Homo sapiens: one gene and its partners. The protein of the gene in region 5 purifies or fractionates together with the protein of the main gene of each other region. This does not show direct contact. Each region holds a gene or a part of one and is shown on either strand. Other genes may lie near its edges.

Region 1 (3,522 bases), on a different chromosome or scaffold from region 5:
AAACACATTTCAACCACAAGTTGTTTACTGTCCTAAGTATCATTTTATCTATTTTCCTTGAAAAAGCAAAGGTCTTGTTTTAATTCATCACTCAAGATACGGGACCAATGGTCAAAAAGACATTCCAAGCCTTCAAACGTTTTACCTGCTTGGGGTTCCGGTTTCTGACGTATCCGGTTTGGGAGAGATTCTCACCTCGTGGGTCATGTTCTCATTATCTCTGAATACACAACACACCTGAACTTTTCTACAGCTTCACTAATCCTGTAGGTGTTTAGCCTGCTGCATTATGTACCAGTCATCTTTCTGCTTTTTTTCTAAATATGGGCCTCTCAAATGCTCTTGCTCTTGACAATTGCTTTATCCTGTGTGCTTCTTTAAAAACATATCAAATGTTTCAATTGCAAATTGGTCTCATGCCACATAAAATTTGGTATTAATTCTAAATACTGAAGTTTCACTCCTTCGTCCCCTCTGTGACTACCACAGCAGAAAGCCTTGAAAATACTGTCATTGCAAGTGGAAGCATGATCCTACATGTGCCCCAGGAGACCCCTCTTCCTTTGTGTTTACAATTGCATAAGAAATTCTGAATCCACACTTTGCAGCCACATTTAGTGTCCTGACACAGAGAAAGGAGAGCCTGGTGGAGCTCTGTAGGATGGCTCAGGACTCCCTTTGCTCCATCCATTTGCACAGCTAGCTGCTATCAGAATTCACGGCAAGGGCGGTCACTGCCTTGGGGGATTTCTGATAGTGTCCCAACACCCTACTTGTAAAATGAAAAATAACTTTGTATTATCCTCTACCCTTTTCTCCAAGGTTGCATGTCTCCTATTTTGATCTGAACTGGCTGATCTGCAATGCCCTTAAGACTTAATATCAGATTTCTGCTTTAATAACAATAACGACATTAGATATACTGTTACAGAATATGTGTCTAATAACAAACAAATTAAAGCCCTCGAAATTCAGACCTTGCCTCATTTACTACCATGTCAAACATGATGGCTGTATAGTAAATACGGCAAAAAGCCCCTCAGGGAGATTGTTTACACATGGCTCTGTCTGCATTGGCAAAAAAAGCAAAAAAAAACAAAAAAAACCCAACTTCCTGTATCCTAATATTTAGTATATTCTTACATTTTAAATAACTGAGAAAGAAAAGAGTGAAGAACGTAATTATTGATTCTCAAGTTTAATTTTAGGGGAGCAATGAAAGGATATGCACAAATACCAATGGCCCTTTGTAAGAGTTTCAAATTACTACACTTTATAATCTTTGTTCCTGACACGTGTGTCACATGTCATCTGTTACACACTGTGGTCATTTCTCCCAGCTGAAACCCTGTTTGTGGATATAAAACTCTTCTACATGGTTTAGAGCAGATGGTGAAGCATATGCCTCTACTTCCTGGGTTGCCTTTCTTCTGATTTCCATATGATAGAGTCTGCCTTGAGGGCCTCCACAGCATTTAAAGAAATCAAAACGGTTAATGAAAGACACAGTTAGATAAACACTCCAAGATGATCTCAGGCTTAAAATATAGCCAAAGTAAATTCAAAGGAACACAGACAGTCCTTTTCTTCATTATGAGGCCACTCAACTCGCCTCCCGATCTCCAATGGAATAACAGATATACCTTCTTAACAAAAAAATGCCTGAGCACCAAGGTGTTCCTGCTCACCCGCCCTCCCTCCCCAGATGGTTTTAATTGCTCAAGGGCAGCACAGGGCCCCCAGAACTCACTTCAAAGGCCTCAAACCAGTTCTGCTTCCTGATGTGTTCTATGCATTCATGGCACTGCTTCTGGAAGTACTTTTTTTGCTTCTCATCCAACAAGCCAATTTGGTACAGGAATTCTGCATAGCCCCCTATAATCTGAGGACAAAAAAGACACACATCAATGTGACAAAGGGAGAGAAAGAGACCTTAAGGAAGCCCATTTGCTTGGTGAAATAATCCTTTGTAATTGTTAATATTGTGCTGGTTAGCCAAGTAGGATAATTACATGCACACACACATATACACCCCACAACACACACAACAGAACACAACACAATACAAACACACACACATTTGCACTGACAGCCAATGTAAGCTGACACAGTAAATTGATACGTTGAAACATTTGGTAAAAATTAGGAGATTTAAGTCATAAAGTCAACTGGTGTTTCCCTTATCAAAAGTTAGACCTCTAAGAGGAGCCTTCCATCTGATAAAAAGGCATTTAATCCCCCTAAGAGACAAAATAGAAAGTCAGAAGGAGAAACCTACTGATTCGGGATCAGAATATCCATCTCCAATAGCAATTCCGTTCAGGTTGATCTTCACCTCTCTCACAGGGTTGAGGGAATGGATGAGGTGTGCAATGGCTGGCACATATTTCCCTGCATAAGACTGAGAAGGACAGATGTTGAAATGGCCAATCACAAATGGATGCTAGTAAAATTAAATGTACTTAAGCTAATTAAAATAACAATGAAGGAGCAATCTTTCCACATGAGGTATACCATCTGTTTCTTAACCCCACATTATAGATTCCATAATAGCAAAAACCTCTGTCTTCCAATTCTTTTGTCGTCTCAAATAGCACCACATGACATGAACAGGTTCGATGCACAAAAAATCACAAGTGAACATGTAATAAGTGAACATTCTAATTTCCTTCCAAAATAAAATAACTTGGGAGAACACAATTCTGCCATGTGTTAGGCATCTCTTACCAGAAAGCTCTATTCAAAGATTAGAGGGAAAAAAATCTCAAGTTTAAAATTAAGATTTCAAAATCTGATAATGCTGCAAATTTTGAAATCAACATGTACTAAAGGAATAGGAGAAGCAGAAAAGGAAAATAATATTTATTGGCCACTAAAATTTTCACTTGAACTCATCTCTATTTCCAAACTTTTCCAGCACAAGGTCCTTTTTCAAGGTCAGAATATTTTGTAGATATATTTCCCCTAACAAACATGGTAACGGTTCTACTTTAAGACTGTGCTGGAAGAGCTACTATTGACTCAGCAGTATTTTTCAAATAATTTTGCATTTTGCATTCTTTCCATCAAAAGTTGCCTTCTTGATATCTCCACTTGTATGTCTAATATTAAACTGCACATGTTCAAAATAAAGCTCCCAATCCCCAACCCTGAGGCAGCCTCCCTTTCATCTCATGTTAATTCTGTTTCTCCCCTGCTCAGGCCAACAATCTTGGTGCCATTCGTTATATCTCTCTTTGTCTCGTATTCCACAGAAGTCAATCAGCCAAGCTTGTCAGCTCTACCTATTCTAACAAAATCTGTCCAGAGTCCAATGTCTTCTCACAACCCCTTCTCCATCACATCATCTCTGGCCTGGATGACTGCAGTAGACTCCTCATTGGCCTCCTTCTTTTGCCCTTATCCTTTAATGACTTCCCATCTTCCCAAAAGCAAAGGCATAAGGGCTGACATGATCTGCTCCCTTCTCTACCCTCAACCCCTGCCACCCTCTCGCTCATTCCTTTCCAGCCCATTGGGTTC
Region 2 (2,388 bases), on a different chromosome or scaffold from region 5:
ATATATATATATATATATATATATATATATATATATATATATATATATATATATTTTTTTTTTTTTTTAACTGAGTTTTGCTCTGTTGCCCAAGCTGGAGTGCAGTGATGCAGCCTCCACTTACTCCCTCACTGCAGCCTCCGCCTCCCGGGTTCAAGTGATTCTCCTGCCTCAGCCTCCTGAGTAGCTGGGATTACAGGCACCTGCCACCACATCCAGCTAATTTTTTAATATTTTTGGTAGAGATGGGGCTTCACCATGTTGGCCAGGCTGGTCTCGGAACTCCTAACCTCAAGTGATCCACCCACCTCGGCCTCCCAAAGTGCTGGGATTACCCATGTGAGCCACCATGCCCGGCCTAGGCATTTCTTTTTATTATCATGCTATGTAAGGTGAGAATCTGAGAGTAAATTGAACTATATGTTAGTGTATTTAACCTTTACTATCTGTAGTTATACAACTAAATATTGACACTCTAGGAATCTCTAGTCTCCTGTTTATAAAATAGGAATTTCATCTTTCTCTATCAAAATAATATGGCATTAGTTAGGATTCAGTGGAGAGAGATAAACAAAATGGTATTGTGTGTGTGCCGGGACTGTGTTAAGTCTCTACAAGCATTTTTTTATTTAATCCTTATAGCAGCCTTATGAAGGAATGTTTTAATTTTCTATTTTTTAACCCATGAGGGAACAGGCTCAGAGGTTATCACAGGCTCATACAGATGGCAAATATAATAGAAGAGCCAGGTCTAAATAGGTGTAGTTAACTACAGCTTCAACCCTCATGAAATCAGCCAGGTGCAATAGCTCACACCTGTAATCCTAGCACTTTCGGAGGTCAAGGTGTGAGGATCGTTTAAACCCAGAGGTTAAGACCAGCCTTGGCAACATAGTGAGAACCTTTATCTACAAAAAATAGAAAAAAATTAGCTGGTCATGGTGGTGCGTGCCTATAGTCCCAGCTATGTGGGAAGCTGAGGTGGGAGGATCACATGAGCCCTGGAGGTTGAGGGTACAGTGAGCTATGATCATGCCACTACACTCCAGCCTGAGTGACAGAGTGAGACCCTGTCTGAAAAAAAAAAGAAAGTTGACATGAAATTATTTTTTATTTTTATTTTTTTATTTTTTCCAAGACGGAGTCTCGCTCTGTCGCCCAGGCTTGAGTGCAGTGGCATGATCTCGGCTCACTGTAACCTCCGCCTCCCGGGTTCAAGCAATTCTTCAGCCTCAGCCTCCCGAGCAGCTGGGACTACATCTGTGCCACCACACCTGGCTAATTTTTGTATTTTTAGTAGAGACGGGGTTTCACCATATTGGCCAGGCTGGTCTCGAACTCCTGACCTTGTGATCCGCCCACCTCGGCCTCCCAAAACGTTGGAATTACAGGCCCAGCCGACATGAATTTTTAAATATATTTAACCGAAAAAAATGACAAGTTTCCCAGTTGGAGAAAAGAGGGTTCCCATTGTGTGCATGCACATGTATACACACAGTTTCTTGTGGTTGGGGGAAAAAATGCATTTTATTTTGCCGGGCACAGTGGCTCACTTTCGGAGGCCAAGGCAGGTGGATCACTTGAGGCCAGGAGTTTGAGACCAGCCTGTCCAACATGGTGAAACCCCATCTCTACTAAAAATAAACATAAAAAAATTAGCTAGGCATGGTGGTGCACATCTGTAGTCCAGCTACTCAAGAGGCTGAGGCACAAGAATTGCTTGAGCCCAGGAGGCGGAGGTTGCAGTGAGCTGAGATTGTGCCACTGCACTCAGCCTGGGCGACAGAACAAGACCATCTCAAAAAAAAAAAAAAAAAGGGTATTTTATTCTACAGAGTCCTATGAAAGCAACTACCCAGAAGAAATGGTACACTTTGCAGACTGTTTTCAAATAAACATTTTCCTTTTAGTTTCCACTGTCCGCAACAGCCCCAATGGTGTGGCTTCCATACTCCTCTATTGATCAGCTTCTCCAAGCTCTGGGAGAGAACAGTGCCAACAGTCACAACATCGCAGTAAGTCAGCCCTTTCATGAGACGTCTTGTGTAAGCCCCTGCACTAGCAGTTACACCTTACAGCTTGATCTTCAGTTCTCCGGGATTAGAAAGGGAAGACAAAAGCCTATTTTTGGCCCTTAACAAACTGCCCAGTCCCTTTATAGATAAGGCAGAGGATCTAAGTAACAGGATCAAGAAAACATAATGAGGAACTGTGTAAGTGTTAATTATACAGAGACAAATGGCAAGCAGTCGGTCCATCCTTTAAAGCTTTTAATTTGGTAGGGCAGACCCTACAAGGTAAACAGGTACTTGAAATACAGCAATGATAGGCCGGGCGCAGTGGCTCACGCCTATAATCCCAGCACTTTGGAAGGCTGAGACGGGCAGA
Region 3 (3,522 bases), on a different chromosome or scaffold from region 5:
TTTTTTTTTAATAAAAAAAGAAAAATCCATTACCTTGAAGTGGCATAAATTTTTTTCATGAGATGCATGTTTATTATTACTAATGGTGCTGTTTTACATCATGAATATATGTGCTACAAGTTGTATAGCACTTCTGAAGTACAGTTTCATTATAGTCATTTGGCCCTCATAATAGCTTGTAAGGTCATTAGATAATGCTGCATTTTATAGGAAAAGAAACGAGGTTAAGAGAGGTTGGGTAACTGAAGGTCAGGCAGATAGTAAATAGAAGAACAAAACTAGAAAATAGATTTTCTCACTCCCAGTCATTTAGTTTTTCTAATATCAGCTTGGTTCTTTGCAAATTTGGGACACTAGTTCTAAGTCTTTAGGAAAAGGAGAAACCAATGTGAAATGATCCCAAATATAAGGGAATTCCCTACTTTTCTGATGAAACTATTAAGAAGGAAAGCTTTTTGCCAATTGTATAAACTTTTTAAAATGCAGCCAAAATAGGCCGGGCGGTGGCTCATGCCTGTAATCTCAGCACTTTGGGAGGCCGAGGTGGGCAGATCACCCGAGGTCAGGCATTTGAGACCAGCCTGGCCAACCAACATGGTGAAACCCCATCTCTACTAGAAATACAAAAAAAAAAAAAAAAATTAGCCGGGCGTGGTGGCAGGCGCCTGTAATCCCAGCTACTCGGGAGGCTGAGACAGGAGAATCACTTGAACCTGGGAGGTGGAGGTTTCAGTGAGCGGAGATCTTGCCATTGCACTCCAGCCTGGGCAACAAGAGCAAAACTCCATCTTAAAAAAAAAAAAGGTAGCAAAAATAGTCAAATATGTTCTTAAAATAGTTAATAATTCACTTATATGTATATGTTTTAAATAAATAAAGTTTAATTTAGAAATAATTACTTTTTTCCATTTTCATATTAATAAAACAATTTTTTCTAGATTCTTTATGAACATCATGTCATCACTGGGGCCACTTTTTGAATCATCAGTTTGGTATTTAGCAGTTTTGAATCCATGTGTGATATATTGGCAGTTTGGGAAATTTTATCCCAAGTCATAAAAACCCATTTATATAATATTAGGATAGTTGCTTTTAAAAGGAATATTTTGTAACTGATATTCAACACATGAAATTGTGAGTTCTGGCTAGGCGTGGTGACTCATGCTTGTAATCCCAGCACTTTGGGAGGCCAAGGTGGGCTGATCACTTGAGTCCAGAAGTTCAAGACCAGCCTGGGCAACATGGTGAAACCCCACTTCTACCGAAAATACAAAAATTTGCCAGGCATGATGGCACCTGCCTATAGTCCCAGCTCCTTTCAGGGGGCTGAGGCAGGAGGATTGTTCAAGCCCAGAAGTTGAGGCTACGGTGAGCCAAGATTGCACCATTACAGTCCAGCTTAGGTGACAAAGTGAGACCCTGTCTCCAAAAAAAAAGAAAGAAATTGTGAATTCTGATCCTCAGGATAATTACTAAATCCAGTGACCTTTTGTTAGTACTACATGCAAAACTAGCGTAGTTTGAAGATAAGATGTATCCCAGACAATTATTTTAGTTCAATATAAAGTCATTGAGGGAGCACCTTTAATATGAGAGACTATGGAAGGATTCAAAACTACACAACTCTTTTTTAAAAATATATAAGTATTCCTTACATAAAAATATATTACCATGATAGCATATTTTCACACCTAAAAAATTAGCAATAATTTTTAATATTATCAATTATTCAGTCACTGTTCAAATTTGATTTATACATTGTGATTGATTGACATGTCTAAGTCTCTTAATGTGTTTGTATTTTTAGTAGAGATGGGGTTTCACCATGTTGGTCAGGCTGGTCTCGAACTCCTGACCTCAAGTAATCCACTCGCTTTGGCCTCCCAAAGTGCTGAGTTTACAGGTGTGAGCCACTGTGCCCGTGAAAGTCAGTATTCTATTACTTGTCATGTCAGCTGGTCGTGGTAGTTCACGCCTATAATCCCAGCACTTTGGGAGGCCAAGGCAGGAGGATCGCTTGAACCCAGGAGTTCAAGACCAGCCTGGGAAACATAGCGAGATACTGTCTCTACTAAAAGCTTTTTAAAAATTAGCGAGGCTTGGTGGCACACACTTGTAGTCCCAGCCACTCAGGATTTCTTGAGCCCAGGAGTTTGAGGTTGTAGTGAGCTGTGGTCTTGCCATTGCACTCCGGCATGGGTGACAGAGTGAGACCCTGTCTTAAAAATAATACTACTACTAGTCATGTCACTAAATAAATATGTCATTCTATGGAACATTTCCTGAGATGCTGAGAAAACAGATGTGAAGAAATAATTAGTACTTACTTATGCATATGTTCCTGGCAGGTGCTGTTGGCAGCAGCGGTCTGCACAAAAGCAGGAAAGGCTATTGTTTCTCGACAGTTTGTGGAAATGACCCGAACTCGGATTGAGGGCTTATTAGCAGCTTTTCCAAAGCTCATGAACACTGGAAAACAACATACGTTTGTTGAAACAGAGAGTGTAAGATATGTCTACCAGCCTATGGAGAAACTGTATATGGTACTGATCACTACCAAAAACAGCAACATTTTAGAAGATTTGGAGACCCTAAGGCTCTTCTCAAGAGTGGTAAGAGTACTGCTATAATACTGGGTTCCACTTTTTGTTTTACATTTTATGTGAAACTAGTTTTTCCTCCAAAGCAGCTGATGCTAACCAGTTTGCAGGTTCCTACTCCGCACCCCAGCGACTTATTGCTGCAGCACCTTGTTTATTCAGCAGACATTTATTGGGTGTCCTCTTAGACTATAGATGTCTCAAAAGAATATGGGAACTACTGTTTCATTTCCCAGTTCTTAAGCAGTTGTTCTAATCTGCCGTTCTAGTTCTGACACTTGTTTGGCTATGCTTTTTAGGTAATGTTTTTTAGGTAAGACTTACTGATCCAGAGACAGACACACACACACACACCCCTCTTCTAAGACTTTATGCCAAAGTCTTGCTTAAAATGAAGACTTAGGTAAGACTTACTGATCCAGAGACAGACAGACAGACAGACACACACACACACACACACACACACACACCTTTTAAGACTTTATGCCAAAGTCTTGCTTAAAATGAAGGCTAAGGCCAGGTGCGGTAGCATGTGCCTGTAGTCCAAGCTACTCAGGAGGCTGAGGCAGAAGGATTGCTTGAGGCCAGGAGTTCAAGTGCACAGGCATTATACTTTAGTGTGGGCAACACAGCAAGACCCTGATTCTTTTTTTTTTAAAGACGGAGTCTCGCTCTTGCCCTGGCTGGAGTGCAGTGGTGCAATGGTGCAATCTCGGCTCACTGCAACCTCCACCTCCCAGGTTCAAGCAATTTTCTGGCCTCAGCCTCCCGAGTAGTTGAGATTACAGATGTGCATCGCCATGCCTGGCTAATTTTTGTACGGGGTTTCACCATGTTGGCCAGGCTGGTCTCGAACTCCTGACCTCAGGTGATCTGCCTATCTTGGCGTCCCGAAGTGCTGGGATTACAGGCATGAGCCGCT
Region 4 (3,522 bases), 410 kb from region 5:
AGCCCTGTTGACTTGTACCAGAAAAGCATCTACTTCCTTCTCCTTTCACCATAAATGCAAATAGGTGTTTGTCACTAAGAGTAGGACACAATAAAAGAAAGTAACACCAGCGGGTGCGGTGGCTCATGCCTGTAATCCCAACACTTTGGGAGGCCAAGGCAGGCGGATCTCCTGAGGTCAAGAGTTTGAGACCAGCCTGGCCAACATGGTGAAACCCTGTCTCTACTAAAAATACAAAAATTAGCCAGTGTGGTGGCGGGCTCCTGTAATCCCAACTACTCGGGAGGCTGAGGCAGGAGAATTGCTTGAACCTGGGAGACGGAGGTTGCGGTGAGCCGAGATACCGCGCCACTGCACTCCAGCCTGGGCGACCGAGTGAGACTCCGGCTCAAAAAAAAAAAAAAAAAAAAAAGAAAATAAAGAAAGTAACCCCAAAATGCCAACCAGGAGAAGAAAATTTGCATTTCTTTTTAAAGAACAGGTCCGCCAGTTGACAGGACTATTATTGTCTAGCACATATAGGACCATGAGATCAGAAAAATCAGGTGTAAATGCTAAAGTTTAGATAAAGAGTCTATAGAGAAAAAGTGGCTGTTCCAGAGGAAGAGAACCTCAGGTACACAGGGCTGCTGCTTCACACATCAAATTCTGTGTTGAACACACACCCAGAGTTATGCAATGGGGAGATCTTATAGGTACATACAGGCACTCTGAAATGACCATCATCCCATGTCTCACTCACGGACCTCAAAGTCAAAATCAGTTGCAATTTTGGATTTAAAAATCAGTCCAATGGAAAAATACACTGGCAACACAAAAATGCTGTATTCATTTTTTGTTGTTTCTTTCCAAAAGATGATCAAAACAAAGATGAGTTTTTCTCCTGTTTTCTTAGCACTTAAATGTGACCCTCTCTCAGAGTAGTAACATGAATGACAGTAAATAGCATTTAAAAATAACGTAAAGGGGCTGGGTGCAGTGGCTCAGGTCTGTCATCCCAGCACTTTGGGAGGCCGAGGGGGGTGGATCACTTGAGGTCAGGAGTTTGAGACCAGCCTGGCGAACATGGCGAAACCCCATCTCTACTAAAACTACAAAAATTAGCTGAGTGTGGTGGCATGCACCTGTAGTCACAGCTATTCAAAGGCTGAGGCAGAAGAATTGCTTGGGCCTGGGAGGCGGAGGCTGCAGTGAGCCGAGATCATGTCACTGCACTCCAGCCTGGGTGACAGAGCGAGCTTCTATCTCTTAAAAAAAAAAAAAGTTAAAGAAAGGAGATGATGCTAGAAAGACTTTGAAGCAAATGTTCATTAATTCAATGTTTTATAATGAGAAAGGTTAGGGTATGGTATAATAAAAAACCCTGGGATATATGCTATGAAGTTGTATTTTCTATAGTTTAGGTAAAAGAAAACTAAAGGTTAGAGGTTAAGTGATTTGCTCTAAGTCATAGAGCTAGCACTAGTACCTACATCTTCTAACCTTCTGGTTTCCCCTTACAGCTTACTATAACTTAGAAAACATTAGACGAAGCCTGCTGGATTCATAGGTTTAATGATAATAATAATAAATAATTTTTACTTGTGGCTTAAAATTATACATTAAAGTTTCTACAATTCTAAGCTTAACAAATAGAAACCCCTTTCCCAAGCCTATTAACATGTAGTACGTGTAATAGGAAGATCTGACATGATTATTTCAGCTACTATATTGGTCATCAGTTGTGGTGTGGTCTATAGGGTCCTTTAAGAGAATGTCTGCCTTGTGGCTCAGACACTAACAACCACCAAAGATGGGAACTAGAGTCTGGTACTTGGAAGCACAGTTATAATCCCTCTCTTCTGTCACCACCACTTACCTTGATGGGTACTTCAGCGAGTAAGCAGCAGCCAAGAATCCACCTAGGTTGTGCCCAAGCAAGATCATTTTGTCCAATCCTAGGGCACATCTCCACTCTTCAATGGATTCCACAAACTGATTCTCCACTTCTTCTGCATCACTGTCAAACCTGGGTCTACTACTTCGTCCAAAACCCAATAGGTCAAAAGCATAGACAGGTCTGTTGGTGCAAAGATCTCCAAAATTCAGTGCCCAGAGCCCAAGACCTCCTCCAAAACCATGGAGAAGGACAAGTGGAGTCTTATTTGAAATATTATGAGAGAACTTCAGTGTCCATATTTTATTTCCATTAGATATACGAACAGGTTCTTTTTTGTATGTGCAAGGCACACCTAATGAAAACATAAAAGAGAAATTCTGTTTCATTTTATTACTTCTGAGAAGGGAAGTATTCTCAGAGCAACCAAAAATTACAAATCATCTAGTATCCAATCTCATGATTTTAGCTTGTATTGTCAGCTATTTTTAAAAAGTACACATTTTATTGAAGTAAATAATCCTAAATGACCATGTTTTACACCTAAAGGGGAAGACCTACCTCAGACAAACCTCAAGTAACCTGTGATCAAGGTCTTTGGCAAGTCATATTACCTTCTAACTTCTTTCCACATCTGTCAAATGAGGGTATTATACTCCTAGAAGTGAAAAGGAACTTAGTGGTTACCGAACCCATTATTTTAAGGTCTCTAGCTTTGCAGAGAATTTGTAGAATACTGTCAGGTGTTCTACAATTTCAAGGTGGTATTCTTTGGTTAACTTTGAGTTGAAGTCAGGCTTAAAGGCATCATTTTTCCTTAAAAAGTAGTCATGAATTTAGGGAAGGATTACTGGTATCTATGTTAAACATGTAAGTGAAACCTTAAGTCATTTCAAAAAAAGGTTGACAAAGTATTGTAGGAACTCCTCAGCATGACACACCAGGTAACTTGGGTCCAACTCTAGTAATCTCCTAGAAAAAGCAAATAGTCACAATTTTATAGACCAAAACTCTTTTTTACCTTTAATGTTGTGGAACTAAATACTTTAAACACTCCCAAAAATTGCCTAAAAATGAAATTAAATTTGAAATCATTTATATTTAACTATCAACTGAACAGCTGCATTTTTGATATACCCCTTAATTATTTATGCATATTCATATACAGTAAACAAGACACTGAAGAAACAGGAGTTTCTGCCTTTTAACCAAAGAAATAATATCATGTTTTGTATCCACATAGTGGCAGCAAAGAAGAAACCTAACATTCATTCAGAATATTAATGGAGCACAAGCCCTCAAGTTGGGGGAAATACCACTAGTTTAGAAAAGGGGCTGCTTTGGCTTAAGTGCCAAGCCAAACCACTTCAGCATTTTGAACACATACGTCTGTGTATTCCCATAAAAACCATCTGTATAACTATTAGAGAACTCACTCCACCGTAGCTTACTTTCATGTCTGACACTAAAGCAGAGACCAATTCACATTCCTATTTGCATCCCTAGAACCAAAAGGAAGGGAATCATTATGTCTGTTAAATGCATGAATTGAGAATCTAGCACCCCTTTTTTACCTCCTGATAAGAATTTTTTTATTTTGGTAAATCACAATGACATCTTTCTTAGTTTTGTAGAGAGCAAGTTTA
Region 5 (3,522 bases):
GCCTCACGAGTGAGCACTGGAACTGTGTTGTCTGCTCTGGATAATCCAGAGCTACGTCATTGATCCTCATCTGCTTTTCTGCACATCTGCTTTGGGTTGTGGCTCTGTGTCTCATGGGAAACCATTTCTTGCTGGTGGTAGGGAAGGAACCTGTCTAAAGAGGATTCCTGCTTTGCCCTCCCTGAACATTTATTTCTCTGCTGTCACTTCCAGAGCCTCCTGAGAGTCTGCTTTGGCATCCCCAGCATTTGGCCTCTGCTCAGGTAGGCTGTTCCATGGCAAATCAGGCCTCTTTCCCTTTCCTTTTGCTATTATGCCCCCTAGTCTGCTGCCATGTGGCTACTCAAAAGTTACTTCAGACTCAGAGATCATTAGTTGTTCATCTAACATGTTTTAAGTTTTGGAGTATCTTCAGGCCCAAAGCAAGATTAGGTCTATCTGCACATCTAAACACATACCCTCTTGACTAATATTTGCCTGGACCGTTTAATGTAGGTTATGACAAAAATGCTCCAGGAACCTGGATTACACAACATAACGGTGGTCAAATCGCAGCCTCACTGGGCCTCAATTTCTTAATTGTTGACCTGCAGTTATCTCTCTTAAACCCATAATACTGTCAGCTCTTTGAAGGCAGAGACTACTTCTTTGATCTGTACATTATCAGACCCAAGTAATGCCGGGTACATAGTCTGTACCAAGAAGTGTCTTGGTGAAGAAGGTAAAAAAATCTAATCTTTAATTTGTTGATTTTATCAGCTTGTTATGGAAACCACACCCTTTCTAATAAAGCTGGGTTGGATTTGAATTGTTTTTCAATCATACAATTTTAGAACTAGAAGCAAATCCTCTACTTTCTGCTAGCATGTTGTAGATGTTCCTGTCCTGAAAGTCCAGTCTGAGAGAATGGCATCACCAGCTACCACTCTCCGCTAGAGTCATTCTGGATTTCTCCCTTTGCTTAGCCTCCTGTGCATTGAGTTCTTGGATTCTACTTCCAAAATGTGTCTCCTCCACAACATCCTTATCATCACTGCCCATATACCAGCTGCCCTCATTTTTAAGTCTTTAAGTAATTTACCTGGAGACATTTTCAGTTGTCTGCTTACCTGTCTTCTAGCTCTATTCTCGCCCTTTCAGTCTGATCTTCACTTTGCTGCCAGAGTAATTTGTTAAACCATCATCTCTGATTGCCATTCTCCTGCTCAGGATTTTTCTTGAGCTCTTGTTTTTGGCTCTTTATGCTAGCCTTCATTTGTTCATTTAATAAAATATATCTGTATATTTTGAGTAGATGCTATACTTGGCAGACCCTGGGATAAAGAACTAAATAAAATGAACATGATCCTTATGTGAACTGAGCCTGTCATTTAGTTTAGTGGGGGACACAGATTATTAACCACACAGTCACACAAATAATTATATGACCTCACATTTGTGATAAGGGTCATAATGGCAAAGGACACAGTGCTGTGAGTGAGTATAGGGAGCTGTATGTGCATGGAGTTGGGGAGGGCAAGGGGATGGTCAGGAAGTCGTCCTTTAAGCTGGGCCCTAGAGCATGGGTAAGGGCTAGCCTAGACCTAAGAAGTAGAAATTGATGAATTATATGGAATACATGCCTGACCTTGTCCCCTGCGCTCTGCATATATTGTTGTCTGAGTCATACTAAACTTCCTTGGGCCTCTTTCCTGAAAAGCCTCTTCCTTACCGTTGCCAGTTTCAGTTCTTAGCTCAAACACACAAAATTTATTTCTCCAGAATGCTGTCTGTGGCATTCTCCAAGGCAGATTTAGGAGAAAAGAACACCTCTTTTTGCGTATCTGTTCCCGTAAGAGACTGTGAATAAGTTGAGACAGAGACCTTCCTAGTATCCAGTACAGGTGTTTAGGGGCCAGTTTGTTGGGCCAATAGAGGATGAGGTTACTGATAAGAAAATGAGATGGAGAACTATATATACAACCCCTTTCAAATACTGTAATCTCATGGGAGGGAGGCCAGTTCTAAAGTTAGGGGGATAAAATCCTTAGGTGATTTGTATTCTACTCACACCCTGCTAATATATATTATCCCATTTAACTTTCACAATAACTGTCCAAGGTGGTGATTATCTTTATTTTATCAAGACATGCCTTTTCATAGAAGTTGAGTAACTTGTTGGGCTGTAGATCCTGTGGTACTCTTTCCACTGTGCTGTCATGCCACTCTGCATATGTGCTTAATAAATGAATTCTGATCATTCCTGAAGTGTACCTCTATGGTGAAGATAATAAGAAAAGTTAACTATGTGGTACTTTGAAATGTGGAATCTTAGGACTGTTATCCTAGCTCCTCCTCTGATGTTCCCTCGCCCCCAGGCAACTCTTAACTGGGTGTAGGACCTGGACAAAGTGAGTTTGTAACCTCATTGGCTTGGCCCTGCTTTTTCATTTGTAAAATGGGTATCACTCTTAAGGAATTAAATGATATAATGTAAAAAGTGCAGTACATACATAGATTCCTAGAAATTAAAATCTGTTTTCTCATTTTGAGACCTGCATTCAAACAAAACTGGAATTCTAATGGCCAACTGAGGCAGCAAAAGACATTTTAAAAATTAGAAATAAGACAAAAATCCATGGTTTTGCTTTACTCGTTTCTGTATAAACCTGCTTAGGTTACTAATAGATTTTTAGTAGTATGTATATGGGTGATAACGAGAGAGATCTATTAAGCCACAACAAAAATGTAGTGTTTTATGGAACTTTGTAGTGAACAATGAACTTTTAAAATTTGTTTGAATTCTCTAATAAGCTTATTTCTGTGTTGCTTTCATGTTAATATGTAAAGGATTTTCCTCTTTCATTGAGGCTCTTTGATGAGAAGCTTTTCCTGTGCATTTTTTATTCTTTAATGACGCTTTGACTAAACTTAAGTATAATTCAAACACAGATATGTGGTGAATTAGTTAGTATGGCAAATTTTCCATTTGTTTTGTCCAGCACGGTTGCTTAAATGATGAGCCAGTAGGTATTCTTCAGAATCAGCTGTAGGTATTCTTCAGAATCAGCTGCCTCTCTTAAAATTTATCTGACTTCCACTCCCAAATCATCACTTCACCTAAACTGGTGTTCTTTCCTAAGCCAGCCAGCTGTAGGCACTCTTACTTTGTTTCTTGTTTACCCCACTTTCAGGAATGGTGTTCCTCTACTCCTGTTGAAGGATAAGCCCTGGTCTGTGGGCTGCACCAGTCCTTGGTGAGCCTGCCATCTATAGTGTCCTCTATTCTTCCTCTGACATGCCTCACCTAGGCTCACTTGTGTAATTATTTCTCTTTTTATATGGGGATACTATTTTCTTTTCTTTTTTTTAAGTACTGGGATACATGTACAGAATGTGCAGGTTTGTTACATAGATATACATGTGCCATGGTGGTTTGCTGAACTGTAGGTCCTGTTTTCCTAAATCATTTTTAAGATTTGAATGGACAGGGACTGTGTTGTGTCCTGTACAGTTAAGGCTCAAATTATTTGTTAATGAAAA

Evidence for each region.
Region 1: the proteins of SNRK (region 5) and CPVL purify together in Homo sapiens (affinity purification with mass spectrometry; one large-scale study listed by BioGRID and IntAct). This does not show direct contact.
Region 2: the proteins of SNRK (region 5) and NUP160 purify together in Homo sapiens (affinity purification with mass spectrometry; one large-scale study listed by BioGRID and IntAct). This does not show direct contact.
Region 3: the proteins of SNRK (region 5) and ARCN1 purify together in Homo sapiens (affinity purification with mass spectrometry; one large-scale study listed by BioGRID and IntAct). This does not show direct contact.
Region 4: the proteins of SNRK (region 5) and ABHD5 purify together in Homo sapiens (affinity purification with mass spectrometry; one large-scale study listed by BioGRID and IntAct). This does not show direct contact.

Annotation. Positions count from the first base shown.
Region 1 is NC_000007.14:29,070,023-29,073,544, forward strand, and holds part of CPVL (probable serine carboxypeptidase CPVL isoform b precursor), read right to left. Parts: intron 2,444-3,522; coding exon of another isoform or gene 2,402-2,443; coding exon 2,279-2,401; intron 1,883-2,278; coding exon 1,751-1,882; intron 1-1,750. UniProt on the Homo sapiens protein: May be involved in the digestion of phagocytosed particles in the lysosome, participation in an inflammatory protease cascade, and trimming of peptides for antigen presentation.
Region 2 is NC_000011.10:47,779,970-47,782,357, reverse strand, and holds part of NUP160 (nuclear pore complex protein Nup160), read left to right. Parts: intron 1-1,910; coding exon 1,911-2,015; intron 2,016-2,388. UniProt on the Homo sapiens protein: Functions as a component of the nuclear pore complex (NPC). Involved in poly(A)+ RNA transport.
Region 3 is NC_000011.10:118,578,898-118,582,419, forward strand, and holds part of ARCN1 (coatomer subunit delta), read left to right. Parts: intron 1-2,348; coding exon 2,349-2,612; intron 2,613-3,522. UniProt on the Homo sapiens protein: Component of the coatomer, a cytosolic protein complex that binds to dilysine motifs and reversibly associates with Golgi non-clathrin-coated vesicles, which further mediate biosynthetic protein transport from the ER, via the Golgi up to the trans Golgi network.
Region 4 is NC_000003.12:43,700,924-43,704,445, reverse strand, and holds part of ABHD5 (1-acylglycerol-3-phosphate O-acyltransferase ABHD5), read right to left. Parts: intron 2,232-3,522; coding exon 1,859-2,231; intron 1-1,858. UniProt on the Homo sapiens protein: Coenzyme A-dependent lysophosphatidic acid acyltransferase that catalyzes the transfer of an acyl group on a lysophosphatidic acid.
Region 5 is NC_000003.12:43,289,527-43,293,048, forward strand, and holds part of SNRK (SNF-related serine/threonine-protein kinase), read left to right. Parts: intron 1-213; exon of another isoform or gene 214-263; intron 264-3,522. UniProt on the Homo sapiens protein: May play a role in hematopoietic cell proliferation or differentiation. Potential mediator of neuronal apoptosis.